2 separate regions of the Homo sapiens genome follow, and region 2 is linked to region 1. Evidence: fine-mapped expression QTL. A gene starts in region 1. The other region holds a variant in brackets. All regions are shown on one strand. Distances are between the middles of the regions. Region 1 holds the start of CATIP (ciliogenesis associated TTC17 interacting protein). Region 2 overlaps SLC11A1 (solute carrier family 11 member 1).

Region 1 (10,641 bases):
GGAGGGGGTTGTTTACTGTAACTAGGGGCAAGGAGATGTAAAGAACGAGAAACTTTAAAATGAAGAACAAAGAACAGGAGAGCTGAATATACTGATACATTGGTTCTTTGAAGAGGATCTCAGAACTCATTGTGCTTAACAATTTATAGGCTAAAACCTTTGAAGAGGAATTTATTATATCCTACAATCTTATACTTGGCCTGATTATTTGCGTAAAGTGCAGCAAGAATGGTTATTTTTACTTACATAGGCCTTTTGCATTGGCTTTAATGAAACTCTGTTTCACAAGGAATTTCAGATAAGACTTTTAAAGCCAAGCCCAGCCATGGGTTTGTATCCTCTAACACCTGTGAGTTGGGTGATCCTCTCTTGAGGTCCCAAGATAAACTCAGAGCTTCCAGACCTGTTACAAAGTTATGTGTCTGTTCTTTTACCAGTACCATGCTGTTTGGTTACTGTGGCCCTGTAGTGTAGTTTGAAGTCAGGTAGCGTGATGGATGCAGCTTTATTCTTTTTGCTTAGGATTGCTTTAGCTATTTGGGCTCTTTTTTCATCTGATATTAATTTTAAAATAGTTTTTTCTAGTTTTGTGAAGAATGACAATTGTAGTTTAATGGGGACAGCACTGAATCTATAAATTGCTTTGACTAGTATGGCCATTTTATGATATTGATTCTTCCTATCCATGAGCGTGGAATGGTTTTCCATTTGTTTGTGTCATCTCTGAGTCCTCTGCACAGTGGTTTGTAGTTATCCTTGTAGAGATCTTTCACTTTCCTTGTTAGCTGTATTCCTAGGTAGTTTATTCTTTTTGTGGCAATAGTGAATGGGAGTTCGTTCATGAATTGGCTCTCTGCTTGCCTGTTGTTGGTATATAGGAATGCTAGCGATTTTTGCACGTTGATTTTGTATCCTGAGACTTTGCTGAAGTTGCTAATGAGCTTAAGAAGCTTTTGGGCTGAGATGATGGGGTTTTCTAGATATAGGATCATGTCATCTTCAAACAGGGATAGTTTGACTTCCTCTCTTCTTATTTGAATGCCCTTTTTTTCTTTCTCTTGCCTGACTGCTCTGGCCAGAACTTCCAATACTATGTTGAATAGGAAAATATAAATTTTAAAACATAAGTATTGGCTGGGCACGGTGGCTCACGCCTGTAATCCCAGCACTTTGGGAGGCTGAGGCGGGCGGATCACGAGGTCAGGAGATCAAGACCATCCTGGCTAACGTGGTGAAACCCTGTCTCTACTAAAAATACAAAAAAATTAGCCAGGTGTGGTGGCAGGCGCCTGTAGTCCCAGTTACTCAGGAGGCTGAGAGGCAGGAGAATGGCGTGAACCCGGGAGGCAGAGCTTGCAGTGAGCCGAGATTGAGCCACTGCACTCCAGCCTGGGGGACAGAGCGAGACTGTCTCAAACAAACAAACAAAAGTATTTTTAAAACTTTTAAGTTCAACTTACCAGTCATATAATTCTCATCATAAATCTAGTGAATGTTAACATTTTTTAGAAACAGGGTCTCACTATGTTGCCCAGGCTGGTCTTCAACTCCTGGCTTCAAATCATCCACCCACCTTGGCCTCCCATGGGATTACAGGTGTAAGCCCCTGCACCCAGCCAAGGGGGCTTTAATTAATAATTGGTTGGTCTTCTTTTCAAAATTAAAACTGCTTTAGGCAGCTTATACTGCAGTTGTTCATCCAATATATTTTATTTCCTTTTTTAAAGCGATTGATTGATAAACCAGCCTCCCAAATACCTTTACTGCAACCTAATAAAAGTAAACATATAAATACAGTAAATCTTAATTTTATTTTTTTTAATGTTCTGGTTCTACTTGCAATCTCAATAAGAAACTTTAAAATTCAAAATCAATTATTCAATAACCCAATTTAAACTTGAATCTGCAGACGTATCTTTTAAGCACTCTAATATACCAATTTTAAACATTTTAAGAACCTGAAATAACAGAGTTCTTTCCTTTCGCTGCTGCAGCCGCAGCCATAAATATGCTCAGGCTTTAGAAGAGGTTCGCTTCTAGTGTCCTCTGCTGTGGCAAGAAGGTCTGGTTGGACCCCAGTGAGACCAATGAAATCGCCAATGCCAGCTCCCATCAGCAGATCCGAAAGCTAATCAAAGATGGGCTGATCATCGGCAAGCCTGTGATGGTCCATTCCCAGGCTCCATGCCAGAAAAACACCTTGGCCTCCCGGAAGGGCAGGCACACGGGCATAGGTAAGCGGAAGGGTACAGCCAACGTCCGAATGCCAGAGGTCACGTGGATAAGGAGAATGAGGATTCTGTGCTGGCTACTCAGAAGATACCGTGAATCTAAGAAGATTGATCGCCACATGTATCACAGCCTGTACCTGAAGGTGAAGGGGAATGTGTTCAAAAACAAGCGGATTATCCTGGAACACATCCACAAGCTGAAAGCAGACAAGGCCTACAAGAAGCTCCTGGCTGACCAGGCGGAGGCCCGCAGGTCTAAGACCAAGGAAGTGTGGGCAGAGGATTACCCAGGTGCCGAGGCAAGAGACTGAAGGCACAGACGGTTTCAGTATAATAAAGAAAATAGTTAGAATAAGAATAGTCATAATACAAAGTAGATATAGAGATGATCATGGATAATTATCAATCATTATTATAAACATTATTAATCATTAGCTTTTAATATTACTCTTTGTTGCATTACTAATATAACCTAGGAATAACCGGCGGGTATAGGGTCAGGTGCTGAAGTGACATTGTGAGAAGTGACCTAGAAGGCAAGAGGTGAGCCCTCTGTCACGCCCCCATAAGGACCACTTGAGGGCTCCTTGGTCAAGCGGTAGTGCCAGTGTTTGGGAAGACGCCCATTACTTAGCAGACCGCGAAAGGGAGTCACCTTTCCTTGGAGGAGTCAGGGAACACTCCGCTCCACCAGCTTCTTGTGGAAGGTTGGATATTATCCAGGCCTGCCCGCAGCCATCCGGAGGCCTAAACCCCTCCCTGTGGTGCTGTGCTCCAAAGGTCACGCTCCTTGTCCACTTTCATGTTCCTGCCGTACTCCTGGTTCCTCTTTGAAGTTTGTAGTAGATGGCGGTAGAAGAAATAGTGAAAGTCCTAAAGTCTTTGATCCTTCTTATAAGTGCATAGAAGAAAACGCTGATGTATGCTGCCGTCTCTCTCTCTGCTTCGGCTACCTAAGAGGGAAGGGCCCCCTGTCCTGTGATCATGTGACTTGCTTCACCTTGTCAATCACTTAGAAGACTCGCCCTCCTTACCGTGCCCCCTTGTCTTGTGTGCAATAAATATCAGCGCGCCCAGCCGTTCTGGGCCACTACCAGTCTCCATGTCTTGATGGTAGTGGTCTCCCGGGCCCAGCTGTTTTCTCTTTGTCTCTTTGTCTTGTGTCTTTATTTATTACAATCTCTCGTCTCCACACACAGGGAGAACACCCGCTAAGCCCCGTAGGGCTGGACTCTACAGGTGGATCACTTGAGCTCAGGAGTTCAAGACCAGCCTGGCCAACATGGTGAAACCCCATCTCTACTAAAAATACAAAAATTAGCCAGGTGTGGTGGCGGGTGCCTGTAGTCCCAGCTACTTGGGAGACTGAGGCAGGAGAATCACTTGAACCTGGCAGGAGGAGGTTGCAGCTGAGATCATGCCACTGCATTCTAGCCTGGGTGACAGAGTGAGACTCTTTCTCAAAAATAATTAAAACAAACAAATAAATAAATAAAAATAATAAAAATAAAAATACAAAAATTAGCTGGGCATGGTGGCACACTCCTGTAGTTCCAGCTACTCAGGAGGCTGAGGTAGGAGAATCACTTGAACCCAGGAGGCAGAGGTTGCAGTGAGCCAAGATGGCGCCACTGCACTCCAGACTGGCAACAGAGTGAGACTCTCTAAAAAAAAAAAAAAAAGCGCCTCACCAGGAATAAGTCCAGTCAAAGAGTTTGCTATGTTGTCATTGTTGTTATCATTATTGTTACATGTATTAGAACTGTAACTTGCAGAGATATTCATGTAGCAGCTAATTGGATAGTGTGCATTTGAGACTCTGTCTGACTTTCGTTCATATCTTCTAAGGTCATTTTTTTTTTTTTGAGACAGATTACAGGCATGTGCCACCACTCCCTGGTAATTTTTGTATTTTTAGTAGAGATGGGTTTCACCATGTTGGCCAGGCTGGATCTCAAACTCCTGGCCTCAAGTGATCCACCTGCCTGGGACTCCCAAAGTGCTGGGATTACAGGTGTGAGCCACCACACCTGGCCTCTTCTAAGGTCATTCTAATGACCCATTTCTTCACTCTGCCTCTTAAGAATATCAAATGTGGGCCAGGCGCGGTGGCTCACACCTGTAATCCCAGCACTCTGGGAGGCTGAGGCAGGAGGATCACGAGCTCAGGAATTCAAGACCAGCCTGGCCAATATGGTGAAACCCCATCTCTACTAAAAATACAAAAATTAGCTGGGCGCGGTGGTGTGCGCCTGTAGTCCCAGCTACTCGGGAGGCTGAGACCTCAAGAAGAATTGCTTGAACCCGGGAGGCAGAGGTTGCAGTGAGATGAGAATGCGCCACTGCACTCCAGCCTGGGTGACAGAGCGAGATTGCGTCTCAAAAAAGAAAAAAATATATATCAAATGCTCCCTCTGCTGGACAACACCTCAAGCTTGTGCTGAGCCCCAAACCTGCAGTGTCAGTTCCCTCCAAGGTCTGGGTGTAGTAAAGTGGGTTGATGGCCCTTTAAGAGGCACTGTCCAGCTCTGGTTGCCATGGAGACAGCTGGACACAGACCGGGTAGAGGCAGGCCCACAGCATGTCCTCCAAGGTTTACTCCACAGGTGGGAAGAGGACTGCTGGGGCTGGAGGCGGGGATCCTCTTCTTTCTTCCCAATCCACCCTCGGGGTAGTCTTAGAGGATTCTGTTCTTGGGTGCTGGGGCCAGGACTGAGGTACCCTGCCTTGCCTCCCTGACCCCTGCCCTTCTCCCCAGGGTCTGCCATCTTAGCCTCTCATCCCTCTGTAGGCTCCAGAGCTAAGGACCACCAGCCCTCGGGTCCGGAGTGTCTGCCACTCCCAGAGGCCAATGCTGAAGCCATCGACTTCCTCAGCTCCCTCCGTGAGCTCAGACAGTGTCGGGGTTGGGGGTGCGGGAGGGGTGCAAGTCTGGAGAGGAGGGAAGAAAGTCCAGTCTCTCTCTCTCTCTCTCTCTCTCTCTCTCTTCCTTGATTCTCCTGGGACTCAGAAAAGGCCTGAGGCCTGTTTGTTGACATTCTTCAAGGGAAGGCCCCCCGGGGACATGGGGACATGGGGCAGGAGTCTTCACCTGTCCGTGCCAGTGAGGAAGGCTGTGGGATGAGGAGGCAGGTGGGGACTGTGGGGACACTGGTGGTCATGGGGTCAGAGGATTGGATTGGGGCCCAGGAGCAGGGGCTTTATCTGTTCCCACGGGCCCCTCACCCCAGACAAGGAGGAGCTACAGATGCTGTTCTTCTCTGAGACGCTGGCCATGGTCTCAGACACCGGGGAGCCTCAGGGAGAGCTGACCATTGAGGTGCAGAGAGGGAAATACCAGGAAAAACTCGGCATGCTGACATACTGCCTCTTCGTGCATGCCTCTAGCCGAGGCTTCTTGGACAAAATGCTCTGCGGAAATTCCCTCCTGGGTAGCGTTCCTACTGCCTGATGCCCGTCACTCTCCCCTTCCTCCAACCCTCCCCTCCACCAATTCCTAGAATCTTTTTTCAGGACCAAGCCCTTGGCTTTGCCTTGGACCAGGACAAGGCACGGGGTGGGAGAGGGATGAGCGAGTTCCTCATGGACTCGGGATGAGGGCACATCTTACCCATCCTGTAGTTTTTCTGGGACCGTATTACACCTAGTCCTCCAGCTGCGCCACCACCTTCCCTTCCTTCAGCCTCTGACCCACATCTCCTGTGACGTCAATGCCTGTGTCCCTGCACCCCAGGCTATCTCTCAGAGAAGCTGGAGCTCATGGAACAGCACAGCCAAGACTTCATCAAGGTACTTCCCAGGGCCCCAGCCTTGACCCAATCCAGGGGAGAGAAGACAGATTTTGACTTAAAAAACAGCAGCAACAACAAACCAAAAAACCTATTACATACACAGTGAAGCTGAAGAATAGCAATCGTGTTATGATGCAATGTAAAGCTCAAAAGCAACGCACTTCAGAAAACTGATTTTAAAACACGGGGGTGGGCTGGGCACAGTGGTTCACACCTGTAATCCCAGCACTTTGGGAGGCAGAGGTGGGCGGATCACCCTGAGGTCAGGAGTTCGAGACCAGCCTGGCCAACATAGCGAAACCTCATCTGTACAAAAATTAGCCAGGCATGGTGGTGCACGCCTGTAGTCCCAGCTACTCAGAAGGCTGAGGCAGGAGAATCGCTTGAACCCAGGAGGCAGAGATTGCCGTGAGCCGAGATCGCGCCACTGCACTCCAGCCTGGGTGACAGAGCAAGACTCCGTCTCAAGAAAAAAATTAAAAAACAATGAGGGTGGGCCAGGCACAATGGCTCAAGCCTATAATCCCAGCACTTTGGGAGGCCAAAGTGGGAGGATCCCTTGAGCCCAGGAGTTTGAGCCTGGGCAACATGGCAAAACCCACCAAAAATGTTTATAAATTTTGTACAAAAAATACAAAAAGTAGCTGGGTGTGGTAATGTGTGTCTGTAGTCCCAGCTACTTGGGAGGCTGAGGTGGAAGGTTCAGCGGAGCCCAGGAGGTCAAGACTGCAGTGAGCAATGTGCGTGCCACTGTACTCCAGCCTGGGTGACAGAATGAGACCCTGTCTCAAAAAAAAAAAAAAAAGAAAAAAGAAGAAAAAAGATGTAGGTTGGGCACGGTGGCTCACGCCTGTAATCCCAGCAATTTGGGAGGCTGAGGCAGGCGGATCACCTGAGGTCGGGAGTTGAAGACCAGCCTGACCAACATGGAGAAACCCTGTCTCTACTAAAAACACAAAATTAGCCGGGCGCAGTGGCTCACACCTGTAATCCCAACACTTTGGGATGCCGAGGCAGGTGGATCATGAGGTCAGGAGTTCAAGACCAGCCTGGCCAAGATGGTGAAACCCTACCTCTACTAAAAATACAAAAAGAAAATTATCCAGGCATGGTGGTGGGCACCTGTAATCCCAGCTACACGGGAGGCTGAGACAGGAGAATTGCTTGAACCCAGGAGGCGAAGGTCGCAGTAAGCCAGGATCACACCACTGCACTCCAGCCTGGGCAACAGAGCGAGACTCTGTCTCAAAAAAAAAAAAAAAAAAAAAAATGTTGGGGATGGTTTCTGGTTTCTGTGGGAAGGTTTTTAGACTTGAGTAGTTTCCAGTGTGTAAACAGGTCATGTTCACATTCCACAAGTTAATTAAGTGGCTGGGGCTGGGTGTGAGGGGCACAGAGCTGGGAGACTTGGAGGCCAGGTGAAACAGGCCCCCAGGGAAGGCTAGGCTCTGGGAAAGGCCAGCCCACCAGGCCTCCAGGGAGGCACTGGGCTCTCAGGCTGGAGGAGGGCTGGTGTGGGCTGGGTTCAGAGTTTGGGTATCAGGAGAACTTATCAGTGGCAACCTGCTGTCCCTGCACCTGGCCCACCCCCATCTTTTAAAACCAGTGTTCTGAAGTGCACTGTTTTTGAACTTTATATTGCATCATAACACGACTGCTATTCTTCAGCTTCACTGTGTATGAAAGGTGTTTTTTGGTTTTTGTTGCTGCTGCTTTTTTTTTTTTATTTTATTATTATTATTATTTTTGAGACAGAGTCTTGCTCTTATCACCCAGGCTGGAATGCAGTGGTGCAATCTAGCTCACTGCAACCTTCACCTTCCGGGTTCAAGCAATTCTCCTGTCTCAGCCTCCCAAGTAGCTGGGAATTACAGACATGCACCACCACACCTGGTTAATTTTTGTATCTTTAATAGAGATGGGGTTTTGCCATGTTGGCCAGGCTGGTCTTGAACTCCTGACCTCAAGTGATCTGCCCGCCTGGGCCTCCCAAAGTGCTGGGATTACAGGCATGAGCCACAACACCTGGCCCTGCTGCTTGGTTTTTTGTTTGTTTGTTTGTTTGTTTTTGAGATGGAGTCTCAAAAACAGCCTGTTGCCCAGGCTGGAGTGTAGTGGTGCGATCTCGGCTCACTGCAACCTCCGCCTCCGGGTTCAAGCAATTCTTCTGCCTCAGCCTCCCAAGTAGCTGAGACTACAGGCATGTGCCACCACACCCAGCTAATTTTTGTATTTTTAGTAGAGACGGGGTTTCACCGTGTTAGCCAGGGTGGTCTCAATCTCCTGACCTCGTGATCCGCCCACCTCGGCCTCCCACAGTGCTAGGATTACAGGCGTGAGCCACTGTGCCCGGCCCGGCTGCTTTTTTTTTAAGTCACAATCTTTAAACCTCAGTTTTCTCATTAATGGAGAAGGGTCAGGTGACCTCTGGGGGACCCAGGGAGTCCCTGATCCTCCCCCGCATGCTCTGGCCCTCAGTTCCTCATCCTCCCCATGGAACGGAAGATGAGTTTGCTGAAGCAGGATGATCAGCTGGCTGTGACCAGAAGTATCAAGGAGGGTGAGGTAAGGATGAGAGCCAGATGGGAGTTGCACTACACACTGTGAACCCAGAATATCTGAGACAGGTCCAGATCAATTTAGAGAGTTTATTTTGCCAAGGTTAAGGACGCGCACATGACACAGCCTCAGGAGGTCCTGAGGAAATGGGCCCAAAGTGGTTGGGGCACAGCTTGTTTTTTTTTTTTTTTTTTGAGACAGAGTTTCACATTTGTTGCAGAGGCTGGAGTGCAATGACGTGATCTCGGCTCACTGCAACCGCCACCTCCCGGGTTCAAGTGATTCTCCTGCCTCAGCCTCCCGAGTAGCTGGGATTATGGGCATGCACCACCACGCCCGGCTAATTCTGTATTTTTAGTAGAGAGGGAGTTTCATCCCTGTTGGCCAGGCTGGTCTCAAACTCCCGACCTCAGGTGATCCGCCCGCCTCAGCCTCCCAAAGTGCTGGGATTACAGGCGTGAGCCACCACGCCCAGCCTACAGCTTGGTTTTATACATTTTAAGGAGACACGAAACATCAATCAACACGTGTAAGATGTACACTGGTTCACCAGACGTAAAAATACAAAAAATTAGCCAGGCGTGGTGGCAGGCGCCTGTAGTCCCAGCTACTCGGGAGGGTGAGGCAGGAGAACGGCGTGAACCCGGGAAGTGGAGCTTGCACTAAGCTGAGATCACGCCACTGCACTCCAGCCTGGGCGACAGAGCAAGACTCCGTCTCAAAAAAAAAAAAAGATGTACATTGGTTCATTGGAAAAGGCAGGACAACTCGAGGCAGGGAGGGGGCTTCCAAGTCATAGGTAGATAAGAGACATGCTTTTAAGTTTCCGATTAGCCTTTCACTGAATACACAATTTACATGCTATGGGGGTTAGAAAAGTAGTCACTTATGCCTTACTCTGGCTTAGTGAAACAATAGAGCAGAGAAAGCCATCAGATATGCATTTATCTCACGTGAGCAGAGGGATGACTTTGAGTTCTGTCTGTCCTTTGTCCACAAGGAATTTCCTTGTGGGCAAATAGTGAGGGAGTTATATAGCTTTTTTTTCTCTTAGTAGCTACCTTGTTTAGGAATAAAATGGGAGGCAGCTTTGCCTGAGGCAGTTCCCAGCTTGACTTCCCTTTGGCTTAGTGATTTGGGGTCCCAAGATTTATTTTTCTTTCACAATGTCCTCTTCAGAACTCTGAGCGGGGACCAGATTAGATGAAGCCAGGAGTCCAGACTAACGATTCATTCATTAGGCTGGGCGCGGTGGCTCACGCCTGTAATCCCAGCTCTCAGAAGCAAGAGGCAGGAGGATAGCTTGAGCCTAGGAGTTCGAGACTTGCCTGGGCAATATAGCGAGACCCCGTTCTCCAGAAAAAGGAAAAAAAAAAAAGACAAGGATTCATTCATTAAAAACCATATGACCGGCTGAAGGCCAGGCGTGTGGTGACTCACGCCTGTAATTTCAGCACTTTGGGAGGCCAAGGCGGGCGGATCACTTGAGGTCAGGAGTGGAGACCAGCCTGGCCAATATGGTGAAATCCCCTCTAATAAAAATACAAAAATTAGCTGGGCGTAGTGTCGTGAGCCTGTAATCCCAGCTACTCAGGAGGCTGAGGCAGGAAAGTCGCTTGAACCTGGGAGCTGGAGGTTGCAGTGAGCTGAGATCGCACCACTGCACTCCAGTCTGGGCAACAGAGCAAGACCCTGTCTCAAAAAAAAAAAAAAAAAAGGCTCACGCCTGTAATCCCAACACTTTGGGAGGCAGAGGGGGCCTATCACCTCAGGTCAGGAGTTCAAGACTAGCCTGGCCAACATGGTGAAATCCGGTCTCTACTAAAATTACAAAATTTAGCCAGGCATGGTAGCCTGTAATCCCTGCTACTTGAAAGGCTGAGGCAGGAGATCGCTTGAACCAAGGAGGCGGAGGTTGCAGTGAGCTGAGACCACGCCATTGCACTCCAGCCTGGGTGACAAAAAGCGAAACTCTGTCTCAAAAAAAAACAAAACCGTATGCCCAACACCTGGCTTGCCCACCCTCCTGTCCCCTGCCCCTTCCTGGTTCCAGGACCCTG
Region 2 (10,641 bases), 37 kb after region 1:
CACCACTGCACTCTCAGTGACACAGTGAGACCCTGTCAAAATAATAATAATAATAATAATAATAATTGCGAAAGGGACTCTGAAGTAAACAAAACAGAGAAATATGATAGAGAATGACTGAAAGTTGGGGAAGTAGATCAGGGAAAAGATATTACAAGCGGAGGGAAAGCAAGTGCAAAGGCCACTGGCAGAAGTGAACAAGGCTTGGGTCCCTAACAGCTTAACAGTGGCTCACACCTGTAATCTCAGCATTTTAAGAGGCCAAGACAGGAGAATGCTTGAGCCCAGGAGTTCAAGGCTAGCCTAGCAAGACCCTGTCTCTGCAGAAAATTTAAAAATTAGCGGGTTGTAGTGGTGTGTGTCTGTGGTCCCAGCTACTTAGGAGGCTGGGGCAGGAGGATCACTTGGGCCCATGAGTTGGAGGCTGCAGTGAGCCATGCATTGCACCACGGCACTCCAGTCTGGGTGACAGAACAAAACCTGTCTCTAAAAAATAAAATAAAGTAAGCTGGACACGTCTGAGGATGGAACAAGGTGAGTGAAGGAGCGTGTCAGGACCTGAGGTAGCCAGGGACCTCAAAGGCCAGCCTTGCTTCACCCACACAGTGGCTTACAGTGGTAAGGCCTCTGTGGCAAGAACAGAGATGTAGGAAACCATCGGCTGACCTGAACCTGCCCCAGACTGCCACGCAGGGGACTTAAGAAGGTACTGGGCTTTGGGGAGAACATAGAAGTGTGAGGGTGGGGGACACTGTGGTGGCTCTGAGGGACTTTGGCACTTCCCTCTCCCTTTGATCTTCGTAGTCTCGAGAGATAGACCGGGCCCGCCGAGCAGACATCAGAGAAGCCAACATGTACTTCCTGATTGAGGCCACCATCGCCCTGTCCGTCTCCTTTATCATCAACCTCTTTGTCATGGCTGTCTTTGGGCAGGCCTTCTACCAGAAAACCAACCAGGCTGCGGTGAGACACACTTTCCCCCGCACCTGAGGCCACACACGTACTCATGTCCTGTAAGCCTTGCCGAGGACCCTAGGCAATGCAGCTGAGCCCTTCTGAGTCTCTGCCCTGATGATCTTCCCTGTTGGCAGATATCATTCATTCAGCAAATAATCATTGAGCATTTGTTATATACCAAGCACATCCTAGACCCTGGGGATACAGCAGTCAATGCTACAAAGACCCAGCTCTCTGCAGCTTAAATAGGGAGGGAGGTGAGCAGACAGGAATGAATACCCAAGGGAAGTACAGAGTGGGAAGAAATAAAGGGGGTGAAGAAGCATAGTTGGGGGTATGGGGGTGGGGTCTGCATTAGCCCAGGTGGTCAGGAAAGGCTTCTTGGAAGAGATGACATTTGTGCTAATACTGGAAAAGGAACTAGCCAGCTCCTCCCTGACTCTCTGGGATCTGGGACCTGTGTCTGTCTCCCCTTCTGAGTGGATCTCAGTCATGAGGCTCTAACAACTGCAGCCAGGGTTGGGGGCTTCCTGAATGCTGAGCCCTGTGGGAGAAGGGGTGGCCAGGCCTCCAAGGACCTGGGCACTGCCACTGCCTTGCTCTGTGACCTTGGGAGGTCACACTCCTCCCTGGGTCTCACTCTGTTCCTTGGCACAAGGAGGGAGATCAACATCAGGACTGCAAACCCTTGTCTTCAAGACCAGGCAGGCGCAGAGTTGTGGGAAGTGGACAGTGTGAAGAGGGCATGGCAGCCAGCTGTCTCTGTGGTGATGCCAGCTCTTACGAACCTAAAAGAAGCTGGAAACTGGGTTCTTATGCCAGGCCTTCTCAATTTTAAATGTTGGCAACAAATCCACATTAAAGAAAAAAAAAACCCGGCCGGGTGCGGTGGCTCACGCCTGTAATCCCAGCACTTTGGGAGGCTGAGGCAGATGGCTCGCTTGAGCCCGGGAGTTCAAGACCAACCTGGGCAACATGACAAGACCCCCATCGCTACAAAACGTAAAAGTAAAACAAAACAAAACCCAACTTATTTTGTTAGCCAAACAAAATATGTCTGGCCAGATTCAGCCTTGGGCCACCAGTTTTGGAACCCTGGTCAGTGCTAGGCAGTCCAGTTTCCCAAGGCTGAGCGTGCTCCTCACATCTTCCTTCTACTGCCCTGGTACCCACAGTTCAACATCTGTGCCAACAGCAGCCTCCACGACTACGCCAAGATCTTCCCCATGAACAACGCCACCGTGGCCGTGGACATTTACCAGGGGGTGAGCGCGGGTGGGTGGGGAGGGCGTGACCCAGAGAGGCTCCCCGCCTCGGGCAGGGCCACCGGTCCTACCACACTCGTCCCTGCAGGGCGTGATCCTGGGCTGCCTGTTCGGCCCCGCGGCCCTCTACATCTGGGCCATAGGTCTCCTGGCGGCTGGGCAGAGCTCCACCATGACGGGCACCTACGCGGGACAGTTCGTGATGGAGGTAGGGCAGGGGGCGGGCCCAGGAGGGCAAGGGGTCCAAGGACAGCAGGCACACTACTGGGGGCTAGAACTCCGAGCCTTGTGGGTCCTCTTTTCTTTTCTTTCTTTTCTTCCTTTTTTTTTGTTTTTGTTTTTGTTGTTGTTGTTGAGACGGAGTCTCGCTCTTGTCGCCCAGGCTGGAGTGCAGTGGCGCGATCTCGGCTCACTGCAACCTCCCCCTCCCAGGTTCAAGCTTCTCCTGCTTCAGCCTCCTCAGTAGCTGGGATTTCAGGCACCTGCCACCAGGCCTGGCTAATTTTTGTACTTTTAGTAGAGACAGGGTTTCGCCATGTTGGCCAGGCTAGTCTTGAACTCTTGACCTCAAGTGATCCGCCTGCCTTGGCCTCCCAAAGTGCTGGAATTACAGGTGTGAACCACCGCACCCGGCCAATTTTTGTATTTTTAGTAGAGACGCAGTTTTGCTGTGTTGGCCAGGCTGGTCTCAAACTCTTGACCTCGTGATCCGCCCGCCTTGGACTCCTGAAGTGCTGGGATTATAGGCGTGAGCCACTGCGTCCGGCCTTTTCTTTTCTTTCTTTCTTTCCTTTTTTTTGAGACGGCGTTTCGCTCTTATTGCCCAGGCTGGAGTGCAATGGCGCGATCTCCGGCTCACCGCAACCTCCACCTCCTGGGTTCAAGCAATTCTCCTGCCTCAGCCTCCTGACCAGCTGGGATTACAGGCCACCACACCCAGCTAATTTTGTATTTTCAGTAAAGACGGGGTTTCTCCATGTTGGTCAGGGTGGTCTCGAACTCCCAGCCTCAGGTGATCTGCCCTCCTCAGCCTCCCAAAGTGCTGGGATTACAGGCGTGAGCCACCGCGCCCGGCTCTTTCTTTCTTTTTTGAGACAGGATTTCACTCTGTTGCTCAGGCTGGAGTGCAATGGCGCCATCACAGCTCGCTGCAGCCTCAACTTCAGCCTCCCGAGTCATTGGGACTACAGGCTCATGCCACCACACCAGGCTAATTTTTAAAATTATTTGTAGAGATGTGGTCTTCCTATGTTTCCCAGGCTGGTCTCGAACTCCTGGGCTCAAGTGATCTTCCCGCCTTGGCTTCCCAAAGTGCTGGGATTACAGACGTGAGCCACCCCACTCAGCTTTGTTTCCTTCATGTAGCCCAGAGGGCGACACTATAAGCCCCATTTTACAGATGAGAAAACAGATCCTGACAGATGAGGTGACTTGCTGGAAGCTGCAGACCCAGGACTAACAGAAGCCTTTTCCCCAAAACTGTTTAGTCTTCAGCAACCAGCTATGGGATGGGAGCTCCCCATTTCTCCCCACCCATCCCCTCTTGCCACCTAGGGACAGAGCTGTCCCAGTTCAACAGTGGAAAAACAGAGCATGCCCCCAGGGATAAATCGGTTGAGGGACTACAGAGGATCTCTCCTCTGGAATCCCCAGTCCTGTCTACTCCTCACCAAGGAGTTCACCCCCACCCCAGGGCTTCCTGAGGCTGCGGTGGTCACGCTTCGCCCGTGTCCTCCTCACCCGCTCCTGCGCCATCCTGCCCACCGTGCTCGTGGCTGTCTTCCGGGACCTGAGGGACTTGTCGGGCCTCAATGATCTGCTCAACGTGCTGCAGAGCCTGCTGGTGAGATGCGCCAACCCCACCAGCCCTGCCCACTGCTGAGCGAAACAGGACCTCCAGCAACCCCCACGCTGAGCCTTGCATGGGCCTGCCAGGCCCTGTCCCAGGCACATCTTGCCTACAAGGCTTCCATTGTCCCCACAGCCACCCTGGGGGGCAGGAGGGTAGGAATCACCATTATCCTTCCCCCCTCCCACCCCCCAGATGGTCTCCCTCTGTCACCTAGGCTGGAGTGCAGTGGTTCAATCATGGCTCACTGCAGCCTGCCCTCCCTGTCTCTAGCAATCTTCCCACCTCAGGCTCCCGAGTAGCAGGGACTATAGGTGCATGCCATCACACCCAGCTAATTTTTTTTTTTTTTTTTTTGAGACGGAGTTTCACTCTTGTTACCCAGGCTAGAGTGCAGTGGTGAGATCTTGGCTCACTGCAACCTCTGCCTCCCAGGTTCAAGCGATTCTTCTGCCTCAGCCTCCTAAGTAGCTGAGATTACAAGCGCCCACCATCACACCCAGCTAATTTTTTGTATTTTTAGTAGAGACAGGGTTTCATCATGTTGGCCAGGCTAGTCTCAAACTCCTGACCTCAGGTGATCCACCCGCCTTGGCCTCCCAAAGTGCAAGGATTACAGGCATGAGCCACTGAGGCAGGTCTAATTTTTTTTTTTTTTTAAGTAGAGACAAAAGCTCATTATGTTTGTTGCCCAGGCTCATTATTCCATTTTACAGATGGGAAAACTGATGCACTCAGTTAAGTTACTAGTGGCAGGGCTTGGATTCAAACCGAAGCAACCTGGTGCCAGAGCCCCCAAACACTTTCTCCTGCTTTGGAGCCCACAACCTGATAAGGCAGGAGACGGGGAAGTAGGCTCAGTGTGGTTAGGGCAGTTGAGCTCACACCCACACAGAGGGTGTCAAGCCACGCCCATCTTGCCCCCACCCTTGCCATATTCTGAGGCAGAATTCCTCAGCCTAGGCTCCTGCTGCTCTCCCCAGCTCCCGTTCGCCGTGCTGCCCATCCTCACGTTCACCAGCATGCCCACCCTCATGCAGGAGTTTGCCAATGGCCTGTGAGTACCCCCTTTCCCAAGTGCTGGATTGCATCACCACATTTCATCCTCACAGCCACCCAGAGGTACGAGCTACAATTCTCCCCATTATCCCAATGAAGCCACAGAGGCTGAGAGAGGTTAAGGGACTTACCCAGGTTCACACAGCTAGCAAGTTGAGGAGCCAAGACTGGAATCCAGGGAAGAGGGCTGTTTCTAGAGCCTGAGCGCCTCACTCTCGCCTCAGACTCAGCTCTTGCCAAATCCCGCCAGTGTGTAGCCTGGAGGGCCCAGGAGGCAGGAGGTGGGGAGGGGGTCTGTCTGCTCCAGGTCCCACAGACCAGAGAAGCGGCCTCAGTGTATCCCCACCCCCAGTGTGGGCGCTGGGAGATGAAGAGGAGTTGATGCAGGTGGGCCAGCAGCAACCAGCCAGTCCTGAGCCTCTCTCGTGTCCCCCAGGCTGAACAAGGTCGTCACCTCTTCCATCATGGTGCTAGTCTGCGCCATCAACCTCTACTTCGTGGTCAGCTATCTGCCCAGCCTGCCCCACCCTGCCTACTTCGGCCTTGCAGCCTTGCTGGCCGCAGCCTACCTGGGCCTCAGCACCTACCTGGTACAGTAGGGCCAGGGGATGCCTTGGGAATGGATGAGGGAAGGACAAGAGGCAACCAATGGGGAGGGTTTGGGGGGACACAATGGGGCTTCCCCAGAGGTCTTGGCATCTCCCCAATTCATGGTTGCCCCTCCCCCAGGTCTGGACCTGTTGCCTTGCCCACGGAGCCACCTTTCTGGCCCACAGCTCCCACCACCACTTCCTGTATGGGCTCCTTGAAGAGGACCAGAAAGGGGAGACCTCTGGCTAGGCCCACACCAGGGCCTGGCTGGGAGTGGCATGTATGACGTGACTGGCCTGCTGG[ATGTG/A]GAGGGGGCGCGTGCAGGCAGCAGGATAGAGTGGGACAGTTCCTGAGACCAGCCAACCTGGGGGCTTTAGGGACCTGCTGTTTCCTAGCGCAGCCATGTGATTACCCTCTGGGTCTCAGTGTCCTCATCTGTAAAATGGAGACACCACCACCCTTGCCATGGAGGTTAAGCACTTTAACACAGTGTCTGGCACTTGGGACAAAAACAAACAAACGAAAAACATTTCAAAAGGTATTTATTGAGCACCTGCAGGCGTGACCTGACAGCCCAAGGGTGGGTGGGGTGAGGGCTTGAGGACTTGGGCGGGACACAGGCTCCAAACTGGAGCTTGAAATAGTGTCTGATGAATGTTAAATTATCTATCTATCTATTTATTTATTTATTTGAGACAGGGAAAGGGTCTCCCTCTGTTGCCAAGGCTGGAGTGCAGTGGCGCAATCTTAACTCATTGCAACCTCCACCTTCTGGGTTCAAGCGATTCTCTTTATTCAGCCCCGGGAGTGGCGCGCGCCACCACGCCCAGCTAATTTGTGTATTTTCAGCAGAGACGGGGTTTGCCATGCTGGCCAGGCTGGTCTCGAACTGCTGGATTCAAGTGATCCGCCCATCTCCGTCTCCCAAAGTGCTGGGAATTACAGGCGTGAGCCACCAAACCCGGCCTGATTAAAGTTAAATAAATACTAGTTCCCTTCTCGTCCAAAGGAGCAGGGAATGGGAACCGGGAAGGCACGAAGTCTCTAAAGCATCCAGAAGACCCCTACACCAGGGTCTGGTCCGCTCCTATTCGCCGCAGCCTTTCTGTTCCGCCTGCAACCCATTTTCCAGACAGTAAAACGGCGGCGCACTTCTTTCTCCGTCAGGCACCAGGTCATAAGGAACCCAAGAGTCTGTGCCTCTGAGGCCCAAATTATTTGCTGTTTCCTCAGGGGAGCCGGCGGCCGCGACTCCCACGCCGCGCCGTTACCGCTCCCTCTCTGCTGACTGCTCCCCCTAGGGGCAGAGACGGTCCCGACGCCCGCCATCCCGCCCCGGCCTCACCCCTCCCCGCCAGGCGGAACGACGCGGGGAGGCGGGCGCTCGGGGCTCGCGCCAGGGGCCCCAGAATCCTTCGGGGAGAGTGGGTGGGAGGAAGCTGTGTGGGCGGGGAGCCCCCTCTGCCTTAGGGAGCGGCTGGGCACCCATTCGCCCCATTCAGGGGCTGCACTTTATAGACGTTCCCTAGGCTGTTTCTAGGCTCCCCCAAGTCCCTCCTCCAGCCTCGTCGGGTCCCTCAGACCCCAGCCCAGGACCTGCGGAGGGCCGCAGCGAGGAGAGGCCAACAGGCCTTTCCCTAGAGTTGAACCTGGGCCGGGTGTTGCACCTGGAAGAACCCCCGATTTCCTGGGGACCCAGCAGGGCAGGCGGCCTGGCTCCGCGCTCAGGTCCGGACGCTTGTTTATGAGAAGAATTTCCTCTTTCTTAAAAGGGCAACGATGCGAGTGGGTCCCTCAAGGAGAGAAGAGATGGGACCGGTCTGGTGCGACCTGGGCAAGCGCTGCAGAGGGTACCTGGGCAAGAGGGCCGCCCGCCTCCTCTGGGTTTGGCACTGGAGAAGATGGGTCCATGCCAGCTGAAGGAGGAGATGGATGGGGGACGTTTAGCGAAGAAAGGCATCTCCCAGATCCTTTAGCCTCCTGGAAGTGCCCCCGTTGTACCCCCTACACACCCCTCTTGGCATTGAGTGCCAGTCCTCTGCCAGGCTCTGTGTTACAAGTTGGGGAGGGCGGCAAAGTCCCGAATTAAAGATGTCAGTTCTCAAGGACCCCACACTCCAGCGGCGGGAGACAGCTGTGCAAACAAGTCCCTGTGGCAGGATGCGGTGAAGGGCGCTGCCCGTGACGCCAGCCAGGGAAGGGGACTGAATCTTGCTGAAGGGGGGGTCGGCGGTAGGGGGGAGTGTTGACAGGACAGCCCAGGAGGAATGAGAGTGCCAGGAGCATGGGGGCACGTGTGTGCACATCTGCCAAGACCTGAAGCTTTCTGGGGACGTCTTAGATCTTGTGGGGCAGGACGGGGGACGGCAGAGTAATGGGCAGGTTGGTCAAGAAGACACGGAGACCCGGCTAAAGGGCTACCCAGGACCTGGGCAAAGGGCTAGTGATGAGGTCGCGCCAAGGTCAGTCATTTGGACACTGGAAGGCGTCTACTTAGAGCTGCCCCCATTCCCCCCATAGTAGCTCTGGTTCTTCCAGCCTGGCCTCAAATCGACCCTCCAGGAAGAGGGGTGCAGAGTTGCTCTTCTGGAAGCTCCCTTTAGGCCTCCCAGGGAGGGCGTGGTCGCACTTGGCACTCCCCAAGAGCCTGCTGAATGCACCCCGACTTTGTGCACGGCTCCCCGCCTCCCCCTGGGTTGGGCTTTTACCAGCCCTGTTTGGCAGATGGGGAAACTGAGGGACTGTGTTGGAAGAGACGCTTCCAAATCCACAGGTGCCAGACAGCACCTTGCTGAATCCCGTTCCTGCCCCTCCCCGTTTCTGACTTGTGGCCCCCATGATTTTATTTTTCCTGGGGTGCGAATGATAAAACAGACAAAAAATAGAGTGCATAAAGCGACCTCCACCTGTAGAGACAGAGGGCAGCTGGGTGTAGACAACCCCTACAGTGAGGACACTCGAAGGACCCCCCTCCCCCCACGCAATCCTGGCCTCTCGCTCACTCCGTAACTAACTACCCGCCCCAGGCGTGGGGAGATAAGTCCAGGGCTCCAGGCAGAAGGCGCGGCTACCTCTGCCGCTTTGGGAGCCTGGGAGGAGGAGTTAGGTCTCCCTGGGAAAAGAACTGCACGGGCAACGGCTTGAAGTGGCGATAAGATGGGGTGGAGGAGGTGGGGGATTCCTGAGGAATCCTGTGAGCTCAGGATGGCGCGTCTGGGAATGGTGGGTGTGGGGACAGCCGGCCAGGTACCAGCCCCCTTCACAGAGGGAGAGGAAAGCGCGCCACCCAACCCAGGCCAAGGGCGAGGCCACGACTCCACTCAGTCCCTCGCCACACGCTTCCTTTTGGGGTCATGAGGGCCCCGCATCCGGAGATAAAGCCGAGGCCCCACCCAGGGGGCCGGACCGCAGGGGAGACAGATGTCCCGCTCCCAGGCTGGAATCCCGCCTTTGCCCTTGCCGGTAGACCCGAAGCACGTCGCTTCCTTTCTTGAAACTCAGTTTCCTCATCTGTGAAATGGGTTAAGAAGGAGGCCGTTCTAAGGGGTAAATGAGATTAGGGGGCGCAGCCAGAGCAGGCCTAGGAAAACGCCAGCAGCGTGTGGCGATCACGGTGATGAAGCGCAATGGTGGCCGCCCCGTGGGCTACCCAGGAGCAGGAGGAGGGCCGAGGGATCCAGCCCGGGGACCGGGGTATCAGTCCCCGACAGTCCCCTCCCGCCCCTACTCCCAGCCTCAGCGCACGAAGCCGCCGCGCCTTCTGGCAGACGCCGCTCCCCTCCCTTCCCCTCCCGGCCCCCGCGCGGGGCCTCCCCTCCCCGGCTCCCCCTCGGCAGGGCCTGGCGGACGTGCGCCGCGTCGCACCCGGCGGCCGGACGGGACAGGACGCGCCCGCCCCGCCCCGCCACGGAGGCCCGCGGGAGAGGGGGAGGGGAGGAAGTGCCGAGGGGTGTTTGTCGGGCTTGGCATTATTAATTTTTAAATGGTGAACTTACAAAATAGTAACGACGAGTGAAAAGAACTTCATAAACGAGGAAAAAGACCAACCCGCAGACCCACGGCGCGCACCACGGAGGGGCTTGCAGCGAGAAGACAGGGACCTCCGTTCCCAAGTGCCCAGCACTGCGCCACAGGCCGGGTGGAACGGGCCTTGAGGGCCTCTGGTTTGAGGTCCCCCACGGTCGGGCTTTGGGCCCACCGCGTGCGGCGCCGTGCTGGGCTCCTAGGATCGGCAGCGAGTCCAGTGACTCCCACCGCACCCCCAGTAATCACAGGGCGGCCGTCGACCGCGGGCAGGGGAGGGGGTCTGGGAAGGCCCCTGGAGAAGGTGGCATTTCCTCGAGGTCGGTGGAATTTGGCTACGCGAAAGGAACAGCGCGTACGAAAACTTCAGGCGGGAACGCGCGGTGGCCCGTGCGCGGCGGGTAGACGTGCGGGGCCCCGGGTGGGGCCGTGGGGAGAGGTCGGCAGGGGGCTTTCCCAGGGCAGAGAGTTAGAATTTCACGTCCTACAGACCGGGGGCACCTCGCCCTGGGGCTGCGGGGGGCGGCGACCGTCCCATTCAAGAGCGTGATTCTGAGGTTTGCACAGCTGTTTCGGGCCAGCAGAGCCTTCGCTGGCTCTTGACGTCCTTGCGAGGTGATCTCTGCGACCACCAGACAGGAGAGAAGACCCATTTTACAGATGAGGTAGTGCTATCTCCAAGTCCTCAACGAGGAAACCGAGAAGCCTCTAGTCCCGGGTCTTCAGAAAACGCAGAGGTGGAGCCGCGCCGCACTCGGGCACTCCCCGGCGTGGGCGCTCCCGGCGGGCGGGCCTTGGCCGAGGGCGCTCGGCGGCCTGGAACGGTGAGCCGGGTGCCGGGCCTGCCACGCAGCCGCAGAGACTCAGCCCCGCCGGCGGGCGGCAGGAAGGGAGGCG

What was found. PIP is the estimated chance that this variant, and not a neighbour inherited with it, causes the effect.
Region 2: its variant is fine-mapped to the expression of CATIP in whole blood (TOPMed, PIP 0.96).

What each region holds. Positions count from the first base shown.
Region 1 is chr2:218,352,073-218,362,713 of GRCh38, forward strand. It overlaps CATIP (ciliogenesis associated TTC17 interacting protein), which reads left to right and starts at 4,785. Exons shown (of 10, transcript NM_198559.2): 1 at 4,785-4,837; 2 at 5,023-5,115; 3 at 5,462-5,662; 4 at 5,965-6,020; 5 at 8,501-8,587. The coding sequence starts at 4,813. CATIP-AS2 (CATIP antisense RNA 2) reads right to left here and starts at 5,894. Exons shown (of 4, transcript NR_125777.1): 1 at 5,842-5,894. It also overlaps the pseudogene RPL19P5. RefSeq lists an enhancer at 4,680-5,191.
Region 2 is chr2:218,389,066-218,399,706 of GRCh38, forward strand. SLC11A1 (solute carrier family 11 member 1) reads left to right here. Exons shown (of 15, transcript NM_000578.4): 9 at 805-963; 10 at 2,133-2,222; 11 at 2,311-2,430; 12 at 3,916-4,065; 13 at 5,055-5,128; 14 at 5,567-5,720; 15 at 5,860-7,829. The coding sequence ends at 5,970. It also overlaps a transcript of CTDSP1 not described here. Among named protein-coding and RNA genes, the nearest start is that of CTDSP1, 5.5 kb to the right of the region's middle. RefSeq lists enhancers at 3,515-4,184, 4,854-5,522, 5,523-6,191, 7,361-7,490 and silencers at 6,871-7,210, 9,451-9,720, 10,411-10,641. The variant ATGTG/A (reference allele first, on the strand shown) is at 6,025.